Homo sapiens: one gene and its partners. The protein of the gene in region 4 purifies or fractionates together with the protein of the main gene of each other region. This does not show direct contact. Each region holds a gene or a part of one and is shown on either strand. Other genes may lie near its edges.

Region 1 (4,219 bases), on a different chromosome or scaffold from region 4:
AAATATTCCATTGTTTGAATACATTGTAATTTTTTAAAACAAATTATATTGTTGAGCATTTGAGTTGTTTCTAGTATTTTATTATTATAAACAAATCATCAAATAACATACTTCTAAATACCTCTTTGTATGTGCATCTGTTTATTTCCTTAGGTTAGGATATAGTCCTAAAAATAGAATTGCTGGGTCAAAGTGTACAAATATACCAAGATATTGTAATAGTTACTTTGTTTATTGATAACATAAATAATACACGTTTATTGAAGGAAACTCAGAAAACAGAGAAAATTATAGGAAAACATAAATTCATCCATAAATTCTTTACCCAAGTATAGCCATTGTTAACATTTAGGCAGAGACTCTTTTAGTACTTTTCTGGACATAGATAGCTGTGGCATAATTATATTATACATAGTAATGTGTAACATGCTTTTCCAATATAGCATCAATGCTTTAAGATGTCATTTGATGTTCTTCCACAAATGATTCGATGGATACATGGTAGGCCATTGTATGACTACAATGTAGTTGATTCACTTTTCCATTAAATATGAGTATTTAAGTTGCTCCTATTTTTTCACCTATAAGGATCTAGAAGAAGGCGCATCCTTATATTGACTATCCTTGTAAATAACTATTTATGGACATTTTCTAATATTTAAGAAAATTCCTAGAAGATGGGCCAAAACTACCTGTGTATAAATGCATGTATGTCTGTGTATATATGTGTACATGCATATACATATATATGCATGAACATGTGTATGCATGTGTGTGTGTCTCCAAACTGACTTCCAAAAAATATGTCCCAAACTCCATTTCCACCAACAATGTATGAAAGCGACTATTCCTCTGAGCCTTACTAACAATACAATGATTTTTTAAAAGTGTTTGCCAATGGTCGAGGGAAGGGCAATATTCTGAAGAATATCCACCTTAAAGAGATTCTAAAAATTCATTGAAGTGAAAGCGAGTCAAGACTTTTTAAATATTATTGCTAAAACTTTAAAACTGCTTCTTAGATCATAAAGACAAGAGAAATTTTATCTGAATAAAACCATCAAAATATTTATAAAATAATAAAATAAAATTTTACACATATTAGGAAGGCCAAAAATTGGAACTATGTAGTCTCCATTAATAAGTTTCTATTATGTACTTTATAAGTCTAAAAAAAGCATTATATACACAAATACTCTCACTCTTTGAGTTATTTTAGTGTACCAGTTAATTTTGCCATAAAATATATACCAGAGAGCTGCCCTTCTGAAGCTCAGTTGACTTAACTTTTGATTGGAGATTACGAAATGATGGCAACATCGGTGAGGAAGGCTGATGCTCAGTTCAGTTCTCACTGAGGATTGGTGTTCCCAAGTTTGTATGTTTCATTGGGAGCAGTTGAAGCTCTCACATTACAAAAGATGCTGCCAGTTCTGTACTGCACACACATGGTTTTGGAACAGATCTGGCGTCAGCTCAATAACCTCATTTAGGCTAAATGGAATACTTTTTGTTATCCTTGTCTGAAATATTTCAAGCATATGAGAAAAGTGCATCATGCTTTTTTTTCTAGCCTGTGAGTAATATTTTGGCAATGCAGCCTCTAGGAGTTCTCATCCACAGGCTCCATATAAGGGCCACCAGAGGGAGTTCACTGGGGGCAGTGCCTTTCTTTCATACTATAGAGTGAGCTTCGTCATATGTGACGTTTGTATCATTTTAAACGTCATCATAGTAATACATTTGAAGTACGGAGTCAAAATTATATTTTCTGACCTTAACGTAAAATGTAACTCCAGGATTGAGTATTAGTAGTTAGGGATATTAATGTGACAACCACAATGCAAACTAAACAGGATTGCACTCAGTAGTAACCAAAATTACTTAATTTCTGCAAATACAATCAGGACTTTGAGCTTCACAAACTTCACAGCTACCCAAGTTGCTTTCTCTCAAGATTGAGACATGGGGAAGAAAGGGGACAAAATTTAGAATTCCACATTGTCTTTCTGGGGACAGAGTTGTAGTGGGGCGTGGAAGGAGAAAGTTTGAGAAACATCCAGTCGCTTTTCCTTTATCGATCTACCTCTTCCTACTCGCTAGTCTATTCTTCAGGGTCTGAGGAAAACCACTTGGAAGGATTGGAACCTTTGGAATGTTTCTCTGACCACACCCTCCTTCTTCCCATTTTCTCACCGTGTTACGTAGGATTTCCAGCTGTTCCCTTCCCTAAAAGAGTTTCCCTCTACTCAAACTCCAAAGTATATATTTTCTTCTCTCCAAGATTTGGCTTTTCCTTGTCAGCATTTGGATTATGCTTACTTAGCACTTCCCAAAGTATGTACTGCAGAATTCTAGTTGCATGGGGATCTTAGTAGATATTACCAGAAAAATAGCAGGGGAGAGATTCTGTGGCTAAATCAGTTTGTGCAATAATACTAAATACAAAATGATCTGTTTTGGATTTTGTTTTTAATTATGGAACTTTTCAGAGACTTTTTTTTTTTTAAAGAGATGAGATCCAGGCTGGGGTAGAACTCCTGGCTTGAACTCATGAGTTCATGAGTTCAAGTGATCCTCCCACCTCAGCTTTCCGAGTAGCTGGGATTACAGGGTTTTCAGAGGCTTTTATATGATAATGTCCTCTATGTAGTTTCCCAACTCTCTGTGACTATGGATTCTTCTGTGGGGTTCCTAAGAGTAGGGATATATGTCTTTCCTTTACTGTTTGGCACACAGTGAGCACTCAAATATTCTCAAATGGAATAAATGAAAATATTATCATATAAGCTCTCACATGACTAGTATCCTCTGGCAAATGCTGGGACACATTGCATTACCACAGCTTCTCTCCCATAAACGAGCCTAACTTCCACCAATAACATCTCTACATTCCCACTTAGGGTGAAAATTTTCCCTTGGTTCCTTTTCTGCCTACCCTGTGGAAGGGAAGAGTTTATATGTGTATGTATATATATTTGTACTTAGGAATGCAATCTCCGTAGTTTAAAGGCAGAGAAACAGTGGAATTGACAGGAAGTACAACCGGAATTTTAGAGATCATTTCTAGTTTGGGCTGCCAAGGTGTTCTTCGTAGCGCTAGTAGGATTTAAGCTGAATTTTGATGTTCTGGTGGGAGTTCAGCAGCAGAGACAAGTGAGAAACTAAAAGCAGGCAAAAAGGAAAGGCACCAAGTCAGAAAAGCAGAGTGGGGACAAGAAAATTAGTTTGTAGGGGAAGTTTATATGAACAGGCTAGCTAGATATCACTGAGGAAAACCCTTACGGAGGAAAAGGAAAAATAGCCATGATAGGCATTATGAAGGAGAAATTACCCCATGACTTTTTGGATACAGATGGCAAAAGAAAGAGTTAACTCAACCATCCACTTGGATATATGAAAGATATTGCAGCAATCCAGGAAAGAGAAGATAAGGATCAGATAGGAAACGTGATTTCAGGATAGAGAAGAGAGGGCACAGTAGAGAAAATAGTTTGGAGGTAAAGTAGTCAAGATTTGACGATTGCTTGACTATGAGGAAGGGTGAGTTAAAGTTATGGGTCTAGGATACCCCAGCTAGCCTTCACCTCAATTGATATTGGAAATAGGTGGGAAGTAGCCAGGTTAGAAGGGAAGGTCGTAAGTTCAGTGTCAGATGTGTTGATGGCTTGTCAGACATCTAGGAAGAGATGACTAGTAGGCACTTGCATAAGTATGTCTGAAGCACAAGGTTAGAGCTTGTAATAAAGATTTAGGAGTTGAGTGGAAACATCGGTGAGATAATCATCATTAAGTGTGTGTGTGTAATGTATTCTTACCTGCATGGATGTGTATGTATACTCAAGCACATGTAGTTTTGATCTTGAAATTTTTGTCGTATGTCAGTTTGTTCATTATATTCTTAGATTAGTATGCTGAGCTATTATCCCATTGTCAATAAAAATGTCAATAAAGAATAGATTTTAGGTTGGGCGAGGTGGCTCATGCCTGTAATCCCAGCATTTTGGAAGGCTGAGGTGGGCGGATCACCTGAGGTCAGGAGTTCGAGAGCAGCCTGGCTAACATGGTGAAACCCCGCCTCTACTAAAAATACAAAAATTAGCCGGGGGTAGTGGCACATGCCTGTAATCCCAGCTACTCTGGAGGCTGAGGCAGGAGAATTGCTTGAACCCAGGAGGCGGAGGTTGTAGTGAGTCAAGATCGCGCCACTGCACTCTAG
Region 2 (4,219 bases), on a different chromosome or scaffold from region 4:
CCCAGGCTGAAGGGATCCTCCTGCCTCAGCCTCCCAGCATAGCTGGAACCACAGGTGTGTGCAACCATACCTGGCTACTGGCTAATTTTTAATTAATTAATTAATTAATCTACTTTTTGGGGATAGGGTTTCACTACATTGCCTATGCTGGTCTTGAACTCCTGGGCTCAAGCAGTCCTCCCACCACGGACTCTCAAAATGCTGGAATTACCTGCAGGAGCCACCTTGTCTGGCCCTCTTTGCACTTCTTAGAAAAGTGACTGAGAGATCCTGTCCTTTGACTCCTGTGAAGAAGCAACCCTTCCCTCACCCCTTCAGAAACTACCTGGAGCCCCTCTTTCCTGGGGCTGGTATTCTCTGTCCTTATACAGTTTTAAAGAAAAACTTACTACAGTGTCAGCTTTTGACCAGTAGACTATTTTGCCATTTCTTTAATAGTAACACAAGCAAATGAACCATCTCCTCTTGACTATGCTCTTCCCACCGACCTCTTTATCACGTGAAATACCAAGCTCACTGATTCAATCAGTGGGAGATAAAGGGGAAGCCTTTATCAGGCAGGATAAGTTGGTGGGGATAAACTGATCAGAGGACTTGCGGGGACCATCGTGCTTGTGGAGTGCACAGATATCCTCTGTAATAGCTCTGACCAGGTTCTGCAAGTTCCCAGAACTGGAAACCAAAGGAGGTTTCAGCTCATAAAAGGTGCCTGGAAGAACTAAGGAAACGGGGGGTTAGACCCTCTTGTAACATCAAATAGTGCGGGGGAAGGAGGTGAGAAAACAGCTGGGAGCACCAGGTCTTGTTGGAAGGGAAGTCCTGAGCCCCTTTTCCAGCATAGACTGAAGTTTGTCACTCTAGCCAGTCTGCCATGATGTCCTCATGGAAAATTGTTCTTCTTTGACCCACAGAAAGTAAATATTTGGGTGGGGACTGGTGGTGAAAAGCACTTTCTCTCTAACCCCTACTAGAGCCTAGACACAAGGAACTTCCTGTTGGGCACAGCAAAGTTTAGTAGCTAATTATTTCTTTCATTTCAACTTAATCAAAAAGTCTTTCACAACAAGAACTTCTACTTTCTGTTTTCCCACAATGTGTAGGTCAGTGCATAAAGCAAGCCCTCAATAATACTTGCTGGTTGACTGGTGATCCATTAGCGGAGGGCAGTTTCTGGGCAATTTTCCCAAACATCAGTCCTGCTGCTTTGAAGTGGGAGGTTTTGCCAAGGGGACCAGGTTATTTTAAGAAAATGGGGAATTATTTATCTGTTAACTAGTTATTGAGAACAAGCCAAACTCTAGGCTAGGCCGGACACTGGAGAATATACAAAAGTCCAAGTTGGAGTCAGCAAACCTAGGAGGGTTCAGGCTTTTTTTTTTTTTTCTTTTTTTCTTGAGTCTCACTCTGTCGCCCAGGCTGGGGCACAGTGGCGCCATCTCAGCTCACTGCAGCCTCTGCCTCAGCTCACTGCAGCCTCTGCCTCCCGGGTTCAACCAATTCTCCTGCTCCAGCCTCCCGAGTAACTGGGACTACAGGTGTGCACCACCATGCCCAGGTTTTTTGTTTTGTTTTGTTTAGAGACGGGAGTCTCTCTCTGTTGCCCAGGCTAGAGTGCAGTGGTGTGATCTCCGCTCACTGCAACCTCCGCTTCCCAGGTCGAAGTAATTCTCCTGCCTCAGCCTCCCGAGTAGCTGGGATTACGGGTGCCAGACACCAAACCCAGCTAATTTTTGTATTTTAGTAGAGATGGTGTTTCACCATGTTAGCCAGGTTGGTCTTGAACTCCCGACCTCAGGTGATCTGCCTACCTCAGCCTCCCAAAGTGTTGGGATTACAGGCGTGAGTCACTGCACCTGGCCTGAGCCTCACTTTCTATGGTGAAAATCTTTGTGTCTTTTTTTCCTATGTGGTAAGATCATCAGATCATCTAATCTTTTTTTTTTCTTTTTCTTTTTTTTTTTTGAGACAAGGTCTTACTCTGGCCCATGCTAAGTGCAGTGGTGCAATTGTGGCTCACTGCAGCCTCGACCTCTCAGACTCAAGTGATTCTCCCATCTCAGCCTCCTGAGTAGCTGGGATTATAGGCACTTACCACCACACCCAGCTAATTTATCATTATTATTATTTGTAGAGGTGGGGGTCTTACTATGTTGCCTAGGTTAGTCTTGAACTTCTGGCCTCAAGCGGTCCTCCTGCCTCAGCCTCCCAAAATGCTGGAGTTACAGGTGTGAGCCACCACACCCGGCCTGTGCTTTCTTTTAATAGTACTTACCATATAATCAATGCTTAATGCACATTTGAGTTAAAGTAACTTAATGCTAGGAACGATGTAAGACAGTTAACTGAGTAAGTAGGGGCCGAACAAATGATGGAGGTCATGAGTGCTGTAGAATTGAAGGAAGAGAGGTTATTGGACTATCACAGGCTTGATGGGCCTCAGAGAGAGCGTTTCAGGCAGGGAAAGCTGTGTAAACAAAGACAGGGAAGCAGGCAAGGACAAGATTGTACAAGAAATAGTGAAAAAGACTGGCCCACATGGAGTAGTATTGGAGAACTTTTAAGTAGGAAGTTGTGAAGGGACAGGGTGAATGTTTTAGGAGGACTTGAAGCCAGTCATGAGTTTGTAAAATACAAGATCAAAACGACAAGGAGAGGGCGGGGCACAGTGGCTTATGCGCTGTAATCCCAGCACTTTCTTGGGAGGCCAAGACGGGTGGATCACTTGAGGTCAGGTGTTCAAGACCAGACTGTCCAACATGGTGAAACCCAGTCTGTACTAGAAATACAAAAACTAGCTGGGCGTGGTGGTGTACACCTATAGTCCTAGCTACTCAGGAAGCTGAGGTAGAAGGATCACTTGAACCCAGGAGGCAGAGGTTGCAGTGAGCCAAGATAGTGCCACTGCACTCTAGCCTGGGTGACACAATGCAAGACTGTCTAAAAAAAAATTAAAAAAAAAAAGGCAACTAGGAGGATGTGTCAGGCGTGTGGGGTAAATGAGAGAAGGAACTAGAAACAGGGATGACATCAACTAGGAAACAGTAGGAGGTGATGAGTGTTTACAATAGGGCTGTGGCAGTAGAATTGGGCACAGCCTGAAAGAGGTTTGAATGGAGGCTCGTTATATAGTCATCAGTAAGGGATGAGGAGGACTGATGTCCAAGTTGACTTCCAGTCTTTCAAGCCACCTTCTGCTGAGTTGTAGTAGCACTGGTTATTAGCGTATAGAATTCTGTGGCATGTGAATGCATCCTGGCTCCTAACCAAGATGTCAGGAAAGTGCCTAGAACCCAAGGCCTGGGTACAGAGAACCCTTTGGAGCTGGGCTTTCCTAGCTGTTTGACTGTGGGCGAGTTACTAAATGATTGAGTCTTTTTCCCATTGGCGGGGGGAAGTAACCTTTACTGTGGCAGTACAAAGATTAAATTGATAGCATGAGAATGTGCTTAGGATGCAGCAGGTGAACAGCAAATTCCAGCTCTCCCTTTCATCAAGGACTCCCCTCTTTCCCTTTCCCTTCTGCCATCCTCAGCCATTTGACTTTTTTTGTTTTGTTTTTGTTTTTGTTTTTAGATGGAGTCTTGCTCTGTCTCCAAGGCTGGAATACAGTGGCACGATGTCAGCTCACTTGCAACCTCCACCTCCCAGGTTCAAGTGATTCTCCTACCTCAACCTCCCGAGTAGCTGGGATTACAGATGTGTGCAACCATGCCCAGCTAATTTTTTAATAGAGATGGAGTTTCACCATGTTGGCCAGGCTGATCTCAAACTCCTGACCTCAAGCCATCCAGCCGTCTCGGGCTCCCAAAGTACTGGGATTACAGGCGTGAGACACCATGCCTGGTCAAGCATTTGACTTTCTACTGAGCTGCTCTTTCCAGCTACAGCTTGGCTATCACAATTCTAGGTGTCTCTGAGAGACATGACCCCCCTCACAAAAAAAAAAAGGAAAAAAAGAACCTGCCGGGTGCAGTGGCTCATGCTTATAGTCCCAGCCCTTTGTGGGGCTGAGGCAGGAGGATCTCATTGAGGCCAGGAGTTGGAGGATACAGTGAGGCATGTTTACACCACTGCACTCCAGCCTGCAGGGACAGAGTGAGACCTTGTCTCCAAAAACAAACAAGCAAAGTTCCTTTTCCAGCAGATCTCTTTGTTTCTTTGCTCAGAACCTGGTTACGTACCCACCTGAACACCAAATACTGGCAAGGGGGGAAGGGAG
Region 3 (4,974 bases), on a different chromosome or scaffold from region 4:
ATGCACCAATCAGTGCTCTGTGACTAGCTAACTGGGTAGCAGACTTGGAGAACTTTTCTGTCTAGCTAAAGGATTGTAAATGCACCAATCAGCGCTCTGTGTCTAGCTAAAGGTTTGTAAACGCACCAATCAGCACTCTGTAAAAACCGACCAATTAGCACTCTGTAAAACAGACCAATCAGCACTCTGTAAAACAGAGCAATCAGCACTCTAAAATGGACTAATCAGCTCTCTGTAAAATGGACCAATCAGCAGGATGTGGGTGGGGCCAAATAAGGGAATAAAAGCAGGCCACTGGAGCCAGCAGCGGCAACCTGCTCGGGTCCCCTTCCATGCTGTGGAAGCTTTGCTCTTTCATTCTTTGCAATAAATCTTGCTGCTGCTCACTCTTTGGGTCTGCACTAACTTTATGAGCTGTAACACTGACTGTGAAGGTCTGTGGCTTCACTCCTGAAGTCAGTGAGACCACAAACCTACTGCGAGGAACAAACAACTCTCGACATGCCACCTTTAAGACCTGTAACACTCACTGCGAAGGTCTGCAGGTTGACTCCTGAAGTCAGTGAGCTCATGAACCCACTGGGAGGAAAAAACAACTCCAGACGTGCCACCTTTAAGAGCTGTAACACTCACTGCAAAGGTCTGCGGCTTCATCCCTGAAGTCAGCAAGACCACGAACCCACCAGAAGGAAGAAACTCTGGACACATCTGAACATCAGAAGGAACAAACTCTCGACATACCATCTTTAAGAACTGTAACACTCACCGCGACAGTCCGTGGCTTCATTCTTGAAGTCAGCGAGACCAAGAATCCACTGGAAGGAACCAATTCCGGACACATTTACGCAGCAGCCACGTCAGACTGGGACACTTCCTGCTTACAGAGGACTATAAAACCCCTTCCTCACTTGGGGCTGATGCTATTATAAAACCCATTCCTCACTTGGGGCTGATGCCATTTAGGCATAAACCCGTCTGCACCCAGGCGCTTATTAAAACAGCATGTTGCTCCACACCGCCTCATGTCGTGGGGGTTGTTGGTGCGTCATCGGGGTTCAAACCAATACAAGAGCCTTGCAGGTTGTTTGTAGCACTAACAAAGGATAAATGCTTGAGAAGATGGATACCCTGCTTATCCTGATGTGATTATGCATTCTATGCCATATCAAATATCTCATGTACCTATAAATACATATGCCTACTATGTACCCACAAAAATTAAAAATAAATTTTTTTGAGATGGAGTCTCGCTCTGTCACCCAGGATGGAGTGCAGTGGCGTGATCTCGGCTCACTGCAAGCTCTGCCTCCTCGATTCACGCCATTCTCCTGCCTCAGCCTCCCAAGTAGCTGGGATTACAGGCGCCTGCCACCACGCCCGGCTTATTTTTTGTATTTTTAGTAGAGACGGGATTTCACCGTGTTAGCCAGGATGGTCTTGATCTCCTGACCTCGTGATCCGCTCGCCTTGGCCTTCCAAAGTGCTGGGATTACAGGCGTGAGCCACCGCACCCGGCTAATAAAAAAATTTTTAAAGAGATTTATTCTGAGCGAAATGAGTGTCTATGGCCCATGACACTGCCCTCAAGAGATCCTGAGAGCATGTACCCAAGGTGGTGGGGGCACAGCCTAGTTTTATACATTGTAGGGGAACATGAGTCTTCAATCAAATACAGGTATAGACTAGTTCGGGCAGGAAAGGTGGGACAACTCAAAGTGGCGGCTTCCAGGTCATGGGTAAGATGAGAGACAAACGGCTACATTCTTTTGAGCCTCTGCTCTGCCTTTTACTGAACACACAATTTACGCCATGGGGCAGGCAGAGGAATAGCCACTTGTGCCTTAGTCTGGCTCAGTGAATCTGCATTTTTACATAAATACAGGGCAGAGGAAGCCGTCAGACATGCATCTGTCTCAGGTGAGCAGAAGGATGACTTGAGTTCTGTCCCTGTTCCTCACCTGCGAAGACAAGCTGTCAATTTACACTGCCAGGGTGCAATTCCACACAACTGTTTCAGGGTAAAGATGTGGAGGTCCACAGCGAATTTCCTCCTGGCCAAAGGGTGAGGGAGCTGTGTGGCTTTTTATCTTTGCAGCTGTCTTAGGAACAAAACTTAGGGGCAGGTTTGCCTGACGCAGCTCCCAGCTTGACTTTGGCTTAGTGATTTGGGGTCCCGAGATTAAATTTCCTTCCACACTATTCTCCCTAGTTTTGTGTATGTGTGAACTATTCTATTTCTGGGCACTTTTAATTTTAAAAAGTGGACAATACTGATCTGGACTTCATTTTAGGAAATGCTGGGGGAGGCTGCAGGATCAGGTGTGCCTCCGTCCTAAATACGCGAAAACGAGGCCAGCGCCCTGGTCCTCGCCCCCACGCCCGCGAACAAGCCTCAGGAGACGCTGGGGGAGGCGCGGGGGCAGCGGCGTCTCCCGGAGACACGAGCCTCGCCCAGGGGGCGTGCGGGAGCCCAGGACCCGCGGGGAGCCAGGCGCTGCCCCGCCGCCGCCCCCAGCCTGCCCAGGCCCCGCGCGCCGCCGCCGCCGCAGCTCTCGAGGTGCTGAGGGACGCCGGGAGGCCGCCGCCTAGAGGGTACTCACCGCCTTGCCCGCAGCCCAGGATCGCCGCCTTCTGGGACTCGGGCTGCGGCATCTTCTCTCCCGCCACAGCCCCAGTCCGACCCGCAGGAGCGGCGCGGGCTGAACTGCCCCGGGGCCCAGCAGCCAGGCGTCGCGCAGGCGCTGGGCGCAGTGGCGGCCGCGCCTCCTCAGGCCCAGGGCCCTCGCCCAGTCCCCGAGCCGCTGCCTCCGCCCAGCGCCGCGCGTCCGCCGGCGCCGCGTGACAGGCGGCCCCGCCCCCGCGCCGCGGTGACGAAACCTCTCGCTGCCCTGACGTCACCGGCCGCCGCGCGCTGAGTCCTCCCTAGCGTTCGCGCAGAGGCGCCGCGCGTGGCCTGGCTCCTGTTGTCTGTCACCCGCGGTCTCAAAAGACCCCATTAATGACAAATGCCCTGCCTGTGGCCCCGGCTACTCCGGAGGCTGAGGCGGGAGCAGCGCTTGAGCCCGGGAGCTCTGCGCTGTATGCGCTGTGCCCATTGCGCGGCGACACGCATCTGTGTTCCGCATCGGTGTGGTGACCTCCCGGGAGCAGGGACCACCAGGTTCCCCAAGGAGTGGGGAACTGGCCCAGCTCGGAAACCGGGCAGGGCAAAACTCCTGTGCTGATCGGTAGCGGGATCGCGCCTGTGAATAGCCACTGCCCTCCAGCCTGGGCAATACAGCGAGACCCCATAAGTGAAAAAAAAAAAAAAAGACAAATGCCCTTAAACATATTAAAAGAAGTTAAACGCCACTTGTGATAGAAGAAAATGTAGATTAAGGTGTAAAGAGAGAAGTGGTGAAAAAAACACTCATACCTTGGTGATAATAGTGCAATGTATACAAATACCATAAAAGGGGAATTGGCAATTTTTAAGAAAAATGGTGTGGGCATTCATCTTTGGCCAATAATGCCAAGTTATATTGAAGAATATCTTAATACTAATCTTCTTTGCATTTCTGAAATAAATCCCACTTGGTTAAGAATATTTTTGAACTTTTTTAAAGAACTCATTGCTTCACAATTAAAGTCTGATGGGGTACACGCGTAGCAATGGAGGAACTTCTACAGCTACTATAAATTAAAGAGCACCACCTGAACCAAAGTAGTGGCCTTCTTGAGCTGAACTGAGCTAACCACATTCCCCAGCCCCTCTTCCACAGATACCCCATGGGGTTGTCAGGGTGTAGGGGATGCCATGTTGTACCACCCAGGTTTCCCCTTAAGGACTGAGGACTCATTTCTCCAGTTGTTGGGTGTGTAGGCCGCTGATGGCCCCCAGCTGAGTCTTGTGGCCACTTCCCTCAGCCAAAGAGAACTGCTGCTGGGTGCCAAGTTGAATGCTTTTGACTCCTTCTACCATGCTTGTGTCTTGATTGGAGATTGACAGATATTTCAGGTACTGGTTTCTCTTGCAAGGGCAGTGCAGACAGCACACAGGTATCTTTGCCCAGTTTCCTTCAATGGTTGCAGCTCATGTAAAATATACATAGTATAATATCAAATAAGCGTCATTGGGGATCAATCCTGCTGGGATCCCCCTCAGAAACTATTCACAGCAGTGGCAGGCAAACTAGGGCAAAGTCTACTAGGTATATTTAAAAGTGTATTACAAGTTTATTTAAATACATAAATATGTTTCCAGAAAGTAATCCTTCCAACTACCTAAACTAGTAATGAAAAATGTTAAATATCACCTTAAATATGTATAAGGGGATACTAAGTTCTTGTATTTAAACCTTATTATTTTAGTATATACTCAAGCAAAAGAGTTTGAAGACCAGACCTTTAGGGCCTCACTACTCAAATGGTGGTCCAGCAACAAGCGACACCAACGTCACCTGGAGTGTGTTAGAAATGGGGAGTCTTGTGCTCCACCTACTTAATTAAAATCTGCATTTTTACCAAGATTTCCAGGTGATTTATACACAAATTAACATTTGAAATCATGCTCTAGGATTAATCAGGGCATGTAAATTTCCATTGTTTCATCTTCTCCTGACCCTTGATAGTATCAGATATTTAAATATTTGCCAACCTGATGAGTATGAGATGCATCTGTTTATTACTTTAAATACTATTCTACCTGATTAATGTGCAATAATTACTTAACCATTATTCTCGTAATTGAGGATTTGGGTTAGCTCCAATTTTTCACTATCATACAGAATGACACTAAAATGCTCTTTTCAGCGTATCATTCTGGTTAAACACAATCTTTGAGGCCACGCTGATTAGGATCATGTAAGGGCCGTGTTATTGTTTGTCCTTGGATACAGTTGCCAGATGAAATACAGGATGGCCTGAAATTTGAATTCCAGATTAAGAATAATTTTGTGGTTTAAGTATATCCTGTGCAATATGTGAGAGGCTTGT
Region 4 (4,219 bases):
TGGGAAGGACTCACCAATGAGATCGAGGAAGGAGAGGCTGATGAAGAGGTTGGCCGCCCAGTTGAAGCTGTTGCAGAAGGCGAAGGCTCTTCCTCGTATCTCCACAGGGTAGATCTCGCTGAGGACAAGCCAGGTCACTAGGGTGGGAGAGCAGGAGGGCTCCTGGGCTGTGGTGGGACCTGGGGCCTGGCACCATCAGGTCAAACATGCAGCCTCTCAACAATGGGATTTTCTAGTGTCAGGCTCCTGATACTAAACTCCCACTCCCATTCTGCTATAAGAATTACAGTAGAGTCTCAGTTTGCTGAAGACTGAGAGGTTTTCTGAGACATGAGACTTTCAATGCCGAGATGGGAACAGTCTTGGACGAACTGGGATGATTGGTTTTCACGCTATTCATTAAATTCCTTCCAGTTGTGAGCTATCCGGGCTTTAAGGGACCTGAAGCTCAAATGACTTGGGGAGGCTTTTAAGGAATACAAATTACAAACATAAAATTAGGCACTGGCCCTGGGAGGAGCAACTGCAGGTAAGTGAGGGGCCCTGAGGCTTCATGGTCAACCCACCTCTAGTGCCCCACTGACACCCTGCCAGGTCATCAGGGTGGGAAGTCCCCAAACTTCCCCCTAGGAGGGGTAGAAGTCTCCAGAGTCACCTGCAAGAAAACTCCACTTACCTGGCCCAAACCCAAAGGAGAAGGCACTGACAAAGACCATCAGGCACAGCAGTGCGGTCCAGCGCAGCAGTGCATGCCCCCGAGCGGGCAGAGGGGGCCCAGGGAGGGCAGAGCTCAGGGCCAGCCGAGGAGGGGCTGAGGGGTCTCCAGATCTGGGATGGGGCTTGGTTTTCTTAGCAGTGGACAAGATTGGCTCCCTTTGGTCCTCATTGGTCCTTGGAATGGGAGGTAGAGAGGAGTCCTGCAGCAGGCCAGAGTCTCCAGGGAGGCCTGTCTGCCCGGTGGCATTGGGCACAGCCAGACAGCTTGGGCCTGAGTCCATGGGCACGGCAAAGCTGACGAGGCCTATGCCACTGACGGACAGGGCCATGAGGGCACAGCCAGCTAGCAACAGAGCCCTGCGGCCTGCACGGTCCACCAGCCCCATGGCGGTCAGGGTAGCTGCCACCTTCACTGCGCCAAGCCCCACAGAGGCCAGCACGGCTGAGGATCCCCCATGGAAACCAACGGAGCTGAAGATGGTGGAGGCATAGCACAGCACGTTGGGCTGCCCTGTTAGTTGCTGGAAGAGCACCAGCCCCAGGCCCACTGTGGTCCGGCCTCGCATGTTATCGCGTGCCCTGAAGAGGTCCAGAAAGGAGTACCGTGGCCTCCCCGGGCCCAGCTTGGGGGCCTCACCTCCCTGGAGTGGGATGAGGTCCTTGTGTGTTGCAGTCTCATCTGTACCAGCAGGGAGGAAGAGGAGGCTGAGGGATTGCAGGACAGCAGGTGCAGTGGCCCAGCCGAACATGTGCCTCCATCCCCAGGGGGTACCAGCCAGTGCATAGTTGAGGGCATAGGAGAGCAGGATGCCCACGGTGATGCCTGCCTCATAGAGGGACACCAGCACTCCCCGCTGCCGTGGCCCCACCAGCTCTGACACGTAGATACAGCAAGCCATGGAGGAGAGGGAAATGGCGAAGCCAACCACAGCGCGGCCCAGGACCAGCCAGGCCAGGGAACCAGCCAGGCCCAGGGTCAGGCTGCCTGCCAGCAGCACCAAGTTGCTCCCGAGGATGGCTTGCTTCCTGCCATAGCAGTCAATGAGGAAGCCACCAACCAGGGAGGCGAGGAGAGCCCCCAGGAGCAGGCTGCCCACCAGGAACTCCTGCTCCAAGCAGCTTAGCCCAAAGTCAAGCTGCAGTGGCAGCAGGGCACCTGATATGACTGCCAGTTCATAACCAAAGGTCAGGCCACCCAGCAAAGACACAGAGGCACACAAAGGCAGGACAGGTGGGGAGTGGCCTAAAAAACAAAAGTGAGAGGGACAGAGTTAGAATGGTTCCTTGTCATACCATCCATCCATTCAACCTTCCCTCCATCTGTCAACACCTTCATTTATCCATCCATCTACTCCATCTATTCAACCATCCATTCAAACCATCCATCCATCCATCCATCCATCCATCCGTCCATCCATCCACTCCATCAATTCAACCATCCATCCATCCATCCATCCATCCATCCATCCATCCATCCTTCCATCTGTCCATCCATCCACTCCATCAATTCAACCATCCATCCATTCATCCTCCATCCATCTACTCCATCTGTTCAACCACCCATTCAACCATTCACTGATCCATCTATCCATCTATCCATCCACTCCAACCATCCATCCATCCATCCATCCATCCATCCATCCATCCATCCATCCAACCACCATCCATCTACACCATCTGTTCAATCATCCATTTAACTATCCATCCATTCTTCCATCCACTCCATCTATTCAACCACCCATCCATCCATCTATGCATCCTCCATCCATTCATCTACTTCATCCATCCAAATATTCATCCATCTGCATGTCCATTTATCTATACCTTAATTCACCCAACCATCCATCAATTTGTTGATCAGTCTATCTACAAATCCATCCATTCATCCACCCATCTCTGTATTTCATCCCTTTGTATACTCATCCACACATCAGTCCATCCATCCATCCATCTATCCATCCATCTAAATTTATTTATCTGGCATTTACAACATGCCAGGAAGTGCTCTTAGGGCTGGAATACAGATGTGTTGTCCAGGATCTAAAGTTCTAGAAGAAATAGGAAGATGATAAATAAGTATATAATTTCAGATAGTGAAGATGTCATAAAAAATGAAGCAGGGAAGGAGAATTAAGGTTGATGGAGTAGTACTATTTTAAGGCCTCTCTGAAGAGCAAAAATTTGAGCAGAGATTTGAGTGACATGAAAGTCCCAGGAAAATCTGGGAGAAGAACATCCTAGACAGAGTGAACACAAAGTACAGAGGCCCTGAGGTAGGACAGTTCTTGGTGTTTGAACAACTATGGATATTAATGGTTAGTACTTATATGGCCCTTACTAAATGCCAGAATCTGTTTTAAGAGCTTTATATGTATTTTCTCATTTAATTGTTACAGCTACCCTATAACATATCATCCTCCAAAGTGCAGAGAAGTTAAGAAACTTTCTCATGGTCACATAACAAGTAAGTTGTAGAGATGATGTGGCTAAAGTGAGGACCTTTAATCACTGAGGTAATCAGACAGGAGGCCAGAGGCTGAAGCCCAGTGAGTGAGAGTGATGGGAGATGATGAGGCAGGAGAAATAGGCAGGGGCCAGATCATGTGGGGCTTTGCAAGTCAAGAGGACAATGAGGAATGTCATTCTCAGTGGTTGGAAGCCTTTGCTGGCTTCAGCCAGGAATGAGGTGATCTACTTTTATTTTTCATTTTTTATGAGTCCCAACAGGAAACAAATCGGTCATCTATTTTTAATTTTTAAAATATTGCTCTTGCTGTTGTATGGAGATGCTAAATGAGGTGAATGTGGCCCAATCAATGTCCATTCACCCCTTTTTCTTTGGTATCAGGACTACATCCAGCTAAAAGACTACATTTCCCACCTTTCCCACAGCTATTGGTGGCTACTAAGATGGAAGAGGGAGTTTTTTTGGTGGGACATTGAAAAAAGCTCTCCAAGAAGAGGGTGAGGAGGGAAACAGCTGGCTAGATCTTTTTTGCCCTTTTTTCTAGCTCCCTTACCTCTTGCCTGGAATGCAGGTGTGATGACTGGAGCTTCAGCAGCCATCTTGGAACATGATGGGGGGTAACCATGAGGATGCAAGCTACACACCGACATAGTAGGATGGAAATATAGAAGAAGAATGGGTCCCTGATGGCAGTAAGCCTACCATACCAACAATGGATTGTCAATCTCCATATATTTTTATGTGCTAAGAAGAAAATCCCAACAATTTCTGACTTAGTGAAACTATGCTATTTCCAGTTTCTATTCCTAGCAGTGAAACCAAAGAGCAAGAGCAAACCCAGGTTGGAAGGCTAGTACAAGGGTCCAGGTAAGAGTGCTAACGAAAACTAAGAAGAAATGCTATATAGCAGGGAGCTGCCAGTTAAGATCAATGAGGAACACGGGCTGCATGTGAGACAACAAAGAATGGTGGGGATTGCCAAACTGGAGAGTTCATGCCTCATCTAAAGTCACAACACAGCTCCAGGTATTGTTA
Region 5 (4,219 bases), on a different chromosome or scaffold from region 4:
GGAGTGCAGTCTTCTGAGACATCTTGGGAGGCCAGGCCTGTCCTTAGCTGGATGAGGCCGAGGCACTGGGACGTGCGTGGGGTGGGCGGCGGGTGAGGACCAGGGAAGGGCTGGCAGGCGTGGGGTTGGGCCTTGCTGGGGAAGTGTGGTTTTCCCCAGCTTAGCCAGGCCTTGGGGCTGGTTGGATGGGGTGTGCTGAGGGATGGAGTGAGCCTGGCCTGCCTGGACACTGCCCAACGCAGCATCCCCCCGGGGTGGGAAGCCAGCAGGCCCTGAGGTGACTCAGCCCCAGCCCCCTCCTCTGGGCCCCACCTGGAAGGAGCCAGGGCTGGGCTCAGGGGTCAAGAGCACACCAGGGGTAGACTGGGGGGTTCCTGGGCAGTGAGGGCTGAGAGGCTGTGGAATGTGGGTACCCAGTGCTGGGTAGTACAGGGCATGTCCCGGGGGTCCCACCTGTCTGAGCATGTCTGTGAGTGACGGTCTCCGTGGGCTGCACTAGGCGGAGCAGGGGGCCAGCCCTGTGGTCTCTTTGCTTGGCTGACAGCATCGCCTGTCGCCATGGCTGGGGTACAAGGGCCAGGTGGCCCGGGGGCAGAGGGGGCATAGTGGCCATGGTCTGAGGCTGTGCTGGGCAGTCCCAGGACCTCTTGGCCTCAGTTTCCCCAACTGTACCGCAAGGGCCCCTCCTGCCACCTGTTCTGTGTGAGGGTGGAGGTAGGTGTGGGTTTGCCTGTGTGCTGTATGCCTGCAGGACCTGAGCTCCGGCCTGTTGGGGCCTCTGGCTGGGCGCCCTGTACTTGGCCACCCCGTGCACTTGGTGGAGGCCGCCAGCGTGGTGATGGGGCCCCACGTTCTCCCCCGTGGTCACCCCCAGTGAGGCACCAAGGGGCGTTCCACAGGAAACGCTCGGGTCCCGGCTGCCCATGGGGCCCCTGTCTGTGGCCACTCCAGCCAGGCTGCCCTTTGCCCACCTCTCCCCCCGGTCGCTCTTCCTGTGCTCCGTGCTGACTTGAGCCAGCTCAGGGCAGGCTGGGCCTCTGGCACCCCAACGGTAGGGAGCCCAGGCCCCTGAGCCCGCGTGGCCTGGAGGGGCAGTCTCCCTCCCTTGAGCTGGGTCATTTTTGGGTCTGCAGAGGATGTGGCCTGAGGATGAGGAGGGTGGTGGGTCCCTGGCTGGGGAGGAAGGGCCAGAGCCTGGCAGACCCAGGGGCAGCGTCTGAGCCCTGGGCCTTGTCCCACCCTGAACGAGGCAGGCAGGTGTGGCCTCAGGTACCTGACCCGCCTCCCCATGTCTGCAGCGCTCCTTTACCCTCATCGTGGAGGCCTGGGACTGGGACAACGATACCACCCCGAATGGTGAGTGAGCCCTGGGCCAGGTGGCAGCTCCTCTCAGCTTCAGCGTGCCTGTGGCAGGGCCCAGCTCCTCTGTCTGCTTGGGACAAAGCCTTGCTTTACCCTGAGGATCATGTGTGCTGTTTCCCTTTTTGCTTTGGCTGCCAGGAAGCTCTGCCACGTTTGGGACTTGCAGAGCTGTGCATGCACTCTCTTCCCCAGTCCTGGCTTTGCCTATGTTGTTCTCCTCTTGGGTGTGCTCTTTTGGGGCCCATGGCAGTGACTTAGTGGAGGGGACACCCTTGAGTGTGTCTCTGGCTTTGTGGCCCCCTCTGCTTGTCTGTACTGGAGCATGGAGCCTTGGTGGCCCTCTCCCTGAGGCAGGGGCTCTGCAGGGCCCTGCAGGGGTAACGGGATGACTTCCATGGGTGAATGCAGAAGCACCCACAGGCCAAGGGAGCAGCTCGTGTGAAGGTCTGGGCAGGAGCGGGCTGGCTGTGCAGGGGGAGCAGCCGGGGCTGGGCTCAGATCATGGAGGCTGGCAAGCCACTGAGAGGACACGGGCTCCGCCTGGCAAGCTGTGGCTGCCTTATGGAGGGTGGGCTGTGGGGCCAGGACACAGACCGAGGAGGAGCTGCCACGTGAATCTGGGCGTGTCAGGGTGACTTGGACCAGGGGCAGTCTGGGGGTGAGAGGGGCTCTCAGAAGTGGAGGCATGGGGTTGGCCAATGGGTTGGAGGAGGGAGAGCGGGGCCAGGGCATCCTGGCTGCCAGCAGAGTGGAGGGGCTGTTTTCAGGGCAGGGACGGCGGTGGGGGTGCCCAGGTGGGGAGCAGCAGTTGTGGGGACCCCAGCGGCTCAGGGCAGGGGTGTTTCCTGAGGGGGTGGCAGAGAGACAGGTGGGCTGAGTCCCAAGCAAGGTCGTCAGGGCTCTTGACAACGTGAGCCTGGAGAGGCTGGGGCGGCCGGGACGCCCCTTGGGGAGTGGGCCAGCACAGTGTCCTCCCAGGCCTTGGCCCGAGGCGGGAGAGGTGGGGTCTGGAGGACCCGTTCACCTTTTATTGTGCAAAACGTCGAGCCTGTGCCTAAGCGCAGGGACCGGCATCACGGACTTTGCATACCAGCGCCAGCAGCTGTGGTGCCCCTGGCCCCTGGTCTCCTGGTGGCTTACTTAAAGTGAGGCTTAGACAGCGGGTCACGGGACCTATGCCTGTCTTGGGGGCCTGAGGGGAGGCTTGTCTTAAGGTGGGGACGGTAGTGGTGTTTGGCACTTCTGGGAGCAAGTCACAGCGCAGGAGAGGGGAGGGCAACTGAGCACCATGTCCGTGCTGTCGAGGGCTGGACACGGCGCAGGTGGGTGCAGGTGTTGGAGCAGGGCTGCAGGTGGGTGGGCACAGGTGTGGGACGTGAGACTCACGCCCTGGCAGCAGCCGTGCCTTCTCTGTGGAGCCTGTGGTCTCAGCAGCCCTCCCTGCAGGGCCCCTAGCCCCTAGCCGGGCCCCCCGACCCTCTGCGTTTAGGGTGGGAGCGGGGCGCAGGCTTGGTGGCGGGAGGGAGAGGCCTCTCGGGGCCCTGAGCTTTCTGTAGCAGCCTGGCCGGGGGCCCTGCCCTCCGTGTGCTGCTGCCTGCTGTGCCCCGGCCTTGCAGCAGCCGCAGGCTTCTGCCCCGTCCCCGTTGTTCCTGGAGGACCCCTGGCCGGGCTGGTTTCTCTGGCCTGTGCTGACTCTGCCGCCTCCCCAAGAGGAGCTGCTGATCGAGCGAGTGTCGCATGCCGGCATGATCAACCCGGAGGACCGCTGGAAGAGCCTGCACTTCAGCGGCCACGTGGCGCACCTGGAGCTGCAGATCCGCGTGCGCTGCGACGAGAACTACTACAGCGCCACTTGCAACAAGTTCTGCCGGCCCCGCAACGACTTTTTCGGCCACTACACCTGCGACCAGTACGGCAACAAGGCCTGCATGGACGGCTGGATGGGCAAGGAGTGCAAGGAAGGTGAGGGGGCCGCTGGGCTGCGTGGAGGGCAGGGAGGGCCTCGGGCAGGGCCCCGGGCACAGGCCTTGCGGCCAGGCTGGCTGCAGCTGTGCCTCTCGCTCCTCTCTGTTCGCAGCTGTGTGTAAACAAGGGTGTAATTTGCTCCACGGGGGATGCACCGTGCCTGGGGAGTGCAGGTGAGTGTGCCGCCGGCCCGTCTTTGCCCTCCCAACCTTTGCCCTCACGTCCTCACTGGCACACACAGCCTTGCTGTCAGGAGTCGCCCGGAGCTGGCTGGAGGTTGGGCACACAGCTGTGAGAGCCGGGCCCTGAGCTCGGGAGGCTCCTTAGTGCAGTAGGTGCGTGTCTGAGCATGGGATGTGTCTGATGGCGGCAGCCATGTGAGGACAGTGAGGAGAGACTGGGGAGGCTGGCTGGACAGTCACGTCACCGAGGGGCAGAGACCCGGAGGCTGCAAGCCACCCAGAGATGGGGCATGGGCAGAGGACACGGTAACCCTGCCCATGGGGAGGGGGTGGGCGGCGAGCGGCCGGCAAGTGACACCAGCAGGCGAGGGGCGGCAGAGCAGACCAGTGGTGGGAGCTGAGGCCTGCAGGACCAGGGACAGAGGAAGGGGCTGCTGGCAGGTTTGTAGCTGGGCAAGGTGGGTGGAAGGGCTGTGGTAGCTGTTGAGTGGGGAAGCACCAGACGGGAGGCTGTGAGGGGGAGGCCGCTGTGGGGCATGTGGGGGTGGTGGGGGAGGGGCCAGCGGGATGGGGAGGGGGTCAGTGGAAGGGGGAGAGGCGCACGGGTCCTGCAGACATCCTGGGGTGGAGCCCAGGGGTTTGTGGATGGATTTGATCAAGCAGGAAGGGTGTGGAGTCAGGGAGAACCCCAAGCTGCTGAGTAGCAGAGC
Region 6 (3,500 bases), on a different chromosome or scaffold from region 4:
CCTGGGTGACAGAGCAAGACCCTGTCTCAAAGAAAAAAGGTCAAGACATAAACGCATGTTAGTTTAGGCCTACACAGAGTCAAGATTATCAATAACGCTTCCACTTCCGCATCTTGTCCCACTGGAAAGTCTTCAGGGGCAATAACACACATGGAGCTGTCATCTCTGACAACAATGCCTTCTTCTGGAATACCTCCTGAAGGACCTGCCTGATGCTGTTTACAGTTAACTTTTTTTTAATAAGCAGAAAGAGTACACTCTAAAATAACAATTAAAAGTGTAGTGTAGTGAATACATAAACCAATGACAGAGTCATTTATCATTATCAAGTATTATGTAGTGTACATAATTATATGTGCTATACTTTTATACAACTGGCAGTACAGTAGGTTTGCTTACACCAGTGTTACCATAAACACATGAGTATGACATTAGGATAGCTGTGATAGCAGTGATACCACTAGGCAACAGGACTTTTTCAGCTCCATTATAATCTTATGAGACCACCATTTTATCTGTGGCCCATTGTTGACTGCAACGTCTTTATGTAGCACGTAATCGTGTAAGTAAAAGTGATTAGAGAGGATGTTTTAGAAAAATAAGAAACACTTCTACCACCCAAACTGGGATTCAAACATTTAAAGCGTTTTACCTAAGGGGTGGGATAGGAGTGACACTTTAAATAACCTTGGATCTGTCCTGGCAGGTGTGAGGGACCCCTGGGATGGGAGGGACAGTTGGTCCTGTTGAAGTGGGTATTTCAGGGAGCCACCCGACTCCTTCACTTCACAGAAGAGGGCCCAAGGAAAGACTCCCAGCTTGGCAGCACTGGTCTTGGATGAGAGATACCCCTAGCAAGATTCACATCAATTCATCCTGCTTTCCTGAACGCTTGCGGGGCCCTGTCTTTTGACCTATTTATTATCGGCAGAGAAAGGAGACTGACATTTGTGAATTCTTTCCCTTCTCTGAGGCCCAGGTTCCTCACTGACAAATATGTGGTTGAGAGGAATAAGTAGGTCCTGTATGGGAAGCTCCTTGCATAGAGCTCAGCATGCAGCAAGTGTGTCATCTTCACTGCCATGGCCAGGAGAATGTGATTAGCTGTGGGCCCAAGGGGGAATTGGTGAGCGTAGTGCTGCTGTTCCTGAGGTTTCTGCCAGCCTGCTGCAGAGCCTCCTTGCTCCAGCTCTCCTGCCCTGCTGCATTCACTGTGCCCACCACCAAGAGCATTCAGGTTTTGTGGAGACTGCACAGGGCTGTCCTCTTAGTAAAGGCAAGACATGGCTGGACTTTTTCAAAAGAGCTTTCTTTACTAGAACTGAAGAATCCCAATCAGAATGGCCAAGGAAAAGTCAGTTGTCTGTGTCCAAGACAAATGTCAAAACAATAAAATGATGAGGTTGGACATTGATTTATGGAAGCAGATGAGGTGTTGTAGGAAAAACGCTGGCCGGGGAGTTAGGTGGTCTTGCCTGAGCCCTGGCATTGCTGCAGCTGACTTTTCTGGGAAGACTTTGGTGAGTCATGGCAGCTCTGAGAGACTCAGTTTCTTTACTTGTCATAAGGGGGTGCTAGCGCTCTCCCTGGGCTCTGTCGGGGGTGGATCCCACAAGCCGATGGACTGGGAAAGGCCTTGTAAATTTTAGTAATGGTTCAGAAGGGAGGCATTTTAATGTTCCCCAGCTACACTGCCTGACACCCACTAAAGGGTGTCAAGGCCTGGCCTTGGACTCCTGCCCTTGTGCAATGCCCCTGCCATTGTGGGTCGTTGGGCAGCAGTGCCAGTCCCAGCTTTTTCCTGAATAGCCTCTGGGTCAGGGGCTGTACCTAGATGGGAGAAGGAGGATGCTCTCTCAGTGAGGGTCCCTGAGACAGAGGGCAGTATTAGGTTCCATGTCATGTCGAAGCTGCAGGGAGGAAACTAAAGCCCAGCAAGCACAGTTTGTAAAGCTCATTGTTTGGGTTTATACAAGAGAGTGAGAGAATAGGGACTCTCCCAGGCTTTGCTCCCCCACTGACTGCATGCCACAATGTGGGGCCCAAGGTTTCAGCTCACAACACATCAATTCTGTCTCACAGTCCGAAAACTCAGACCTGTTCTATGCCGTACCCTGGTCCTGTGGGACGCTGGGTTTCCTGGTGGCCGCTGAGATCCGCATCATCCCTGCCAAGAAGTACGTCAAGCTGCGTTTCGAGCCAGTGCGGGGCCTGGAGGCTATCTGTGCCAAGTTCACCCACGAGTCCCAGCGGCAGGAGAACCACTTCGTGGAAGGGCTGCTCTACTCCCTGGATGAGGCTGTCATTATGACAGGGGTCATGACAGATGAGGCAGAGCCCAGCAAGGTAAGCCAGGGTGTCAGCTGCTGCTGACCAAGACTGGGGAGGCATGAGTGTGCTAGGACTGAGCCGGTTCCCGTATCCTGACCCTGGCAGCCACCTCTTCAAGGCTGCTGCCTGGGTCAACCCACCTGGGGTACAGGCAACAGGATCTATCATCAGAAATGTATTAGACAGTGATGGAAGCTTTCATCTACTCTGCCCCTACCACCTGCCTGGGATGTGCTTGTCTCTTAGTGGATGTAATCTTTGGTCCTTATAGCAAACCCATTTTATAGATGAGGAAACTGAGTCTTCAAGAGGTAATGTAGGCTGGGCACAGTGGCTCACACCTGTAATCCCAACACTTAAAAGAGGTAATGTAAACTTCCACAAGATTCGAGTAATCGATTTGATGCCTTGGAATCTAGATTGACATTCCTTCCACATATACCATGCAATTTTTATTAGCAGTTTTTTCTCCATTTAGAAAGGATTTGTGCTTATTGTAAGAGACTTGGAAAGGATTTGTGCTTATTGTAAGAGACTTGGAAGGTACAAACAAGTAAAAAGGAAAGAAAAGACTCCACCTGTAAATATGTCCCAAAGCCAGTGTTGCTAATGTGTTTGGTACACAGTTGGCCCCTTGTATCTGTGGGTTCCACAACAGTGGATTCAACCAACTGCAGATTGAAAGCGTTCAGGGGCCAAAAAACGGATGGTTTCATCTGAAATGAACATGGACAGACTTTTTTTCTTGTCATTATTCCTTAACTGTTACATAGCATTTACATTGTATTAAGTATTGTGAGAAATCTAGAGATGATTTAAAGTATACAGGAGGATGTGCATAGGGTTATATGCAAATACTAAATCATTTTATGTAAGGGACTTGAGCATTCATGGATTTTGGGGGATCCTGGAACAAATCCCCCATGGATACTGAGAGACAACTGTATTTATTTCCTCTTTCTCTGTATGGATTTTTTTGAAAGTTTTTAAATTATAAAAGTAATGTAACAATGCTGAAATATATAAAGAAAAAGTTAAAGTGCATCTCTTTACGCCAGGGTGTAACCACTTACGTATAACAGTTTTGTGTGCATTCTTCGAGACCTATTTATTTTTATTTATTTATTTTCTTATTGTTTTTTTTTTTGAGACAGGGTCTCTGTAGCCCA
Region 7 (4,122 bases), on a different chromosome or scaffold from region 4:
ACATGGAGAAATTAACCACTGATTTCAATGTGGCACAATAAAAATAATCTCTTCCATTCGTATAGAACACTAATTTTCAATGTGACTTCTACATATATTACCTGCCTCCCAGGCTAGAGAGGGTGACACCCCCATTTTACAGTTACAATAGTCAAGACAACAGGGCCCTGAATCTTGATGACTTCTGGGCTAAACATAAGAGCACCTTTAGCTGTGGTTTCTTATCCATAAAACACAGCTATCTACTCTACCAGCTTCACAGGATGGTTGTGAAGGAACAAGTGAAACTGCTTTGAAAAAGTAGTAAATGCTAAACAAATGCAAAGAATCATCAATCAGAGGATGGCAGGCAAATAGATGGTAAAGTCTGAGTGTAAGAGTCAGAATAGGTATACAAAAAAGTCAAAAGAATGGCAATAAAAGAAAAATCATTCTTAAGAAAGACCAATCTTATTCACTGGACCATTCTCTCAACTTTACTGTATATTACAGTTCACTTTTGAAATACAAATTTAAACCTTAAATTTTAAATACATCATTCCAGGGGTTAGCGGACTATGGCCTGTGGGCCATTTTTGTGAAGTTATACTGGAACATAGCCATGCTCATTAGTTTATGTAGTCTACTATGGCTGCTTTGGTGCTACAACGATAGTTTCAACAGAGACTGCATAGCCCTCAAAGCTGAAAGTATTTACTATCTAGACCTTCACAGAAAAAGTCTGCAGACCCCTGCTTTAATTGTGGAAAACTATTACTAAGTTATTCATTTGCCTGTCAATAATGGGTTATCCCTTATGCTTGGTTCATGTTTCAAAAAGGAAAGAAATAAGGAATCCAAAGGAAGTACATTTAACTTTTTATTACTTTTTAAAAATCCAAATTCAGATAAATTAACACACTAGGTTAGAACCTCAATTGTATTTGATACATTATATACTGGATTTCTATTACTAAAAAGCCAGTTGGAATATGGCCTATACGAACCAAAGAGTGTATACAAAATGGAAGTGGTCATCAGGCAATAATTGTTTCCTTGGAACTCTGCACCGACTGTCCATGCTCTGTGGGGACTTACACATTCAAGTTTGACAGTTGAAAAACCAACTGGAGCTGCTTTTCCAAGAATGTTCTGTTGTCCTTCAAATAGAATTCCATGTTATTTCTTTCTTGCCTTAAGCTCTTATATCTTTCAAATGACCTAAGCTGATGAACTGGAGTAAACACAAACTGCTGCAGTTATCAATTAGCAAGCCTAGTTCACCAATACTTCAAAATAAACAGACTTCACAAGTTTATTTCCATTCCTAACAGTGGAATAATAACTTAATTTTGTTTACTTTTGTCTTTGTAGATTTCTGTCTGCAGCTCCAGTAAGAATGCCAAATCAGATGGCTTTTAGGAAATGCTCATAGGAGAGAACTAGAGTTATTCCTCACACTGAATTTAAGTCTTACCAGATTTCTGCAGGTTCATATGTTAACGTTCTGATCTAGCCTACCTGTAAGTCTAGTTTATTTCTGTACACACTTCCAAATACTCTTCATAAATTTTCACTTCTGACTGAAATATAACACCTTGATTGATAGTTTCATAACTATAGAATTTTAGTGAAGATATAAAACATTAATGAATACTTGTGTTTTAATACATCACTACTCCTATTTATTACATGTTCCAATAAACCAATAGAATGAAGCACTAAGACACGGTGAAATCTAAACTTAAAACCCAGATGGAACTGCCATATAGATTACAAATGGGTCTCCCCACCACAGAATTCATATACAAAAGCCCTTCGGTATGTAGCTTTTCCTGAACAAATACATTAATACACTTTTTGTTTTTTACATTTGTAAAAATTCAAGGTTTTAATAACATTTCTTTGCAAGACATTTGGTATAAGGTGGTTAATAAATATTAGGAAACAAACACTGTACCAAAATGGATATGACTTGTGAATAAACCCTAAATAAAGTGGCTTTTGGAAGAACTGGATTTTGCAGCAACCAACTTTATAAAGAGGTCCATCCACTCTCAATGGAAAACACCCAAGCATACCATTCACTAGGTTCGGATATCACCATAATATAATGAATTCTAAGAGTATGGGGTTTGATTTATGGGCAACCCCAGTACAATCTAGGAGCCCAACATGATGAAAAATACTAAAAGAATGCTTCACCATCCCTCAGGCCATTACATTTCCACCTTATCCTACTCTTGTATTAGGATATATGTATACAAATGTCAACTACTAATGTAGTTAAATTTCAGGAGAAGCATGCTTAAAGATACACAAGGAATGTTTAGCCTTAGTTTTTGATAGTATTATCCAAAGTGTGAGTTGAAAGAAATTAAGCAAATAATGTTAACAAACGAAAGACAGATACACAGCATTAGTGGGGGTATAAAAACCTCACCTTTCAATTAACTTGAATAATGTTCTATTTTCTATTCTACAACTGAGCGCTAGGGAGCTAAACTATTTGTGAATTACATCTTCTTTAAGAAGACACACACACACGCACACACATACATACACTTATTCAACCCCTCTATGCAGCCAAAAACCAATACAAGTCCTTTTCTAAAAGACTTTAAAGGTGATTAATATTCATTTAATGCTCTTAATGTATTTGGAAATCAGAAAATTATTTTTCACCACAGATTCCAAAGAACTTCAAATAGAGCTCAATTTAGTAGAAAGAATTGGTGTACCTGAAAGCATTTAACCCACACATTTTCAATAAACCCTACATCTTACCTGCAAGATTCATATCATGAGAAACAAATTTCATTTTATTAAGACAAAACCTTACTGTCCAATTTATACTCCCATCAGACAGACTATGTATTGGTATGTTAAAAGTACTTTTGAATAAAAGTGGTGAGAAAGAAACCAAAAAAGTACTTTATATATAGTTAAAAGGTTACATAATATAGGCAACTAAATATTAACTTTTAGTTTCTTTTTTATAAGATCTTAAAGGCAAGTAAGAAGGAAGAGAAAATGGAAGTACCAATAAATTATATTTAATATACCATTTTGGCTTCAGAAGAGGATTTACCTACAGCTTCTGATCAAATTTGTTGGATCATATCAATCATACTTAAGTGGTAAGAAATCATACTTTTCACCTTTTAAAGGACTTACATGTCACAATATAGGATGTAGAGTCCATCAATAGATAGGTACATATTTTGTAATGAAAACATCTTGTGTAACTATTAATTGCATGATTTTCATATTAAGGTTTAAATACAGGTGTTTTGAGTCTTTCTAAAAATAACAATATAAAGTATTGTTTTAGGTGGTCATTTGCATAGCAAACTATTAAACTAGAAACTCAGTGGTTCTAGGAAAACTTCATATTATGAATAGTTCCAGAAAAATGTATTCAAATCACTTCTCTTACAAAACTGTAACCTTTATTTGTTGATCCAACAGTACGTTAACCACTTTTACCCCATCCCCACTTTACACGGTACACCAACCTGAACAGATTTTGTGCCACAATTTCATTCAAAGGGTTTGTCATTCACTTTATGATTGTGCTGGATAATCTAGATGTAAGCAAGTCTGGAGATTTTAAAATACGGGTCCCCTGTATGAGAGTAGCATAGTTTATAGCATACTTTTAAAAATGGCATTCGGTAATTTTGCCTTCTGGACAGAAAGATATCTTCAAATTGCAAACACATCTATTTCCACAAAACAATTTGGTCAGGAAATTTTATTTGAACATTCTAAAGCAATAATGCTTTAGATGTTACTTAAGTGTCCCAGACAGGATTAACAAAATTAAGTGTCTCTAAATTACAAATTTGGCTCCTGTAGGAGTCTCAGAAAATAAACAGAAGAAAACAACCCCCCTCCCAAAAGAAGTATGACACACACATTTTGAAGAAACCCCAATGTTTCATGCAATGGTAGGCAAGATGTAAAAGCCCACCCAAATCACACATTTCTACACCAATCATCATAAGAAAAAAGTACTCTGTAGTCGATCTGTACATCCAAATGCATTTGGGAATCTACACCTACGTTACATTATTTAATGTTATATACATTTATTACCCACCCCCCTTGTTTTTAATAATTTCTTATGTAAAACCTTCA

What was found.
Region 1: the proteins of SLC2A10 (region 4) and ENPEP purify together in Homo sapiens (affinity purification with mass spectrometry; one large-scale study listed by BioGRID and IntAct). This does not show direct contact.
Region 2: the proteins of SLC2A10 (region 4) and RNF122 purify together in Homo sapiens (affinity purification with mass spectrometry; one large-scale study listed by BioGRID and IntAct). This does not show direct contact.
Region 3: the proteins of SLC2A10 (region 4) and GALNT11 purify together in Homo sapiens (affinity purification with mass spectrometry; one large-scale study listed by BioGRID and IntAct). This does not show direct contact.
Region 5: the proteins of SLC2A10 (region 4) and JAG2 purify together in Homo sapiens (affinity purification with mass spectrometry; one large-scale study listed by BioGRID and IntAct). This does not show direct contact.
Region 6: the proteins of SLC2A10 (region 4) and DHCR24 purify together in Homo sapiens (affinity purification with mass spectrometry; one large-scale study listed by BioGRID and IntAct). This does not show direct contact.
Region 7: the proteins of SLC2A10 (region 4) and TM9SF3 purify together in Homo sapiens (affinity purification with mass spectrometry; one large-scale study listed by BioGRID and IntAct). This does not show direct contact.

The regions. Positions count from the first base shown.
Region 1 is NC_000004.12:110,478,762-110,482,980, forward strand, and holds part of ENPEP (glutamyl aminopeptidase), read left to right. Parts: intron 1-4,219. UniProt on the Homo sapiens protein: Regulates central hypertension through its calcium-modulated preference to cleave N-terminal acidic residues from peptides such as angiotensin II.
Region 2 is NC_000008.11:33,560,282-33,564,500, reverse strand, and holds part of RNF122 (RING finger protein 122), read left to right. Parts: intron 1-4,219. UniProt on the Homo sapiens protein: May induce necrosis and apoptosis. May play a role in cell viability.
Region 3 is NC_000007.14:152,023,511-152,028,484, reverse strand, and holds the start of GALNT11 (polypeptide N-acetylgalactosaminyltransferase 11), read right to left. Parts: upstream 2,812-4,974; 5' UTR 2,653-2,811; coding exon of another isoform or gene 2,601-2,652; intron 1,516-2,600; exon of another isoform or gene 1,451-1,515; intron 889-1,450; exon of another isoform or gene 767-888; intron 1-766. UniProt on the Homo sapiens protein: Polypeptide N-acetylgalactosaminyltransferase that catalyzes the initiation of protein O-linked glycosylation and is involved in left/right asymmetry by mediating O-glycosylation of NOTCH1.
Region 4 is NC_000020.11:46,722,782-46,727,000, reverse strand, and holds part of SLC2A10 (solute carrier family 2, facilitated glucose transporter member 10), read right to left. Parts: intron 1,961-4,219; coding exon 677-1,960; intron 187-676; coding exon of another isoform or gene 138-186; coding exon 15-137; intron 1-14. UniProt on the Homo sapiens protein: Facilitative glucose transporter required for the development of the cardiovascular system.
Region 5 is NC_000014.9:105,154,843-105,159,061, reverse strand, and holds part of JAG2 (protein jagged-2 isoform a precursor), read left to right. Parts: intron 1-1,298; coding exon 1,299-1,356; intron 1,357-3,072; coding exon 3,073-3,324; intron 3,325-3,439; coding exon 3,440-3,500; intron 3,501-4,219. UniProt on the Homo sapiens protein: Putative Notch ligand involved in the mediation of Notch signaling. Involved in limb development.
Region 6 is NC_000001.11:54,870,196-54,873,695, reverse strand, and holds part of DHCR24 (delta(24)-sterol reductase precursor), read left to right. Parts: intron 1-2,082; coding exon 2,083-2,346; intron 2,347-3,500. UniProt on the Homo sapiens protein: Catalyzes the reduction of the delta-24 double bond of sterol intermediates during cholesterol biosynthesis.
Region 7 is NC_000010.11:96,517,264-96,521,385, forward strand, and holds the end of TM9SF3 (transmembrane 9 superfamily member 3 precursor), read right to left. Parts: 3' UTR 847-4,122; downstream 1-846.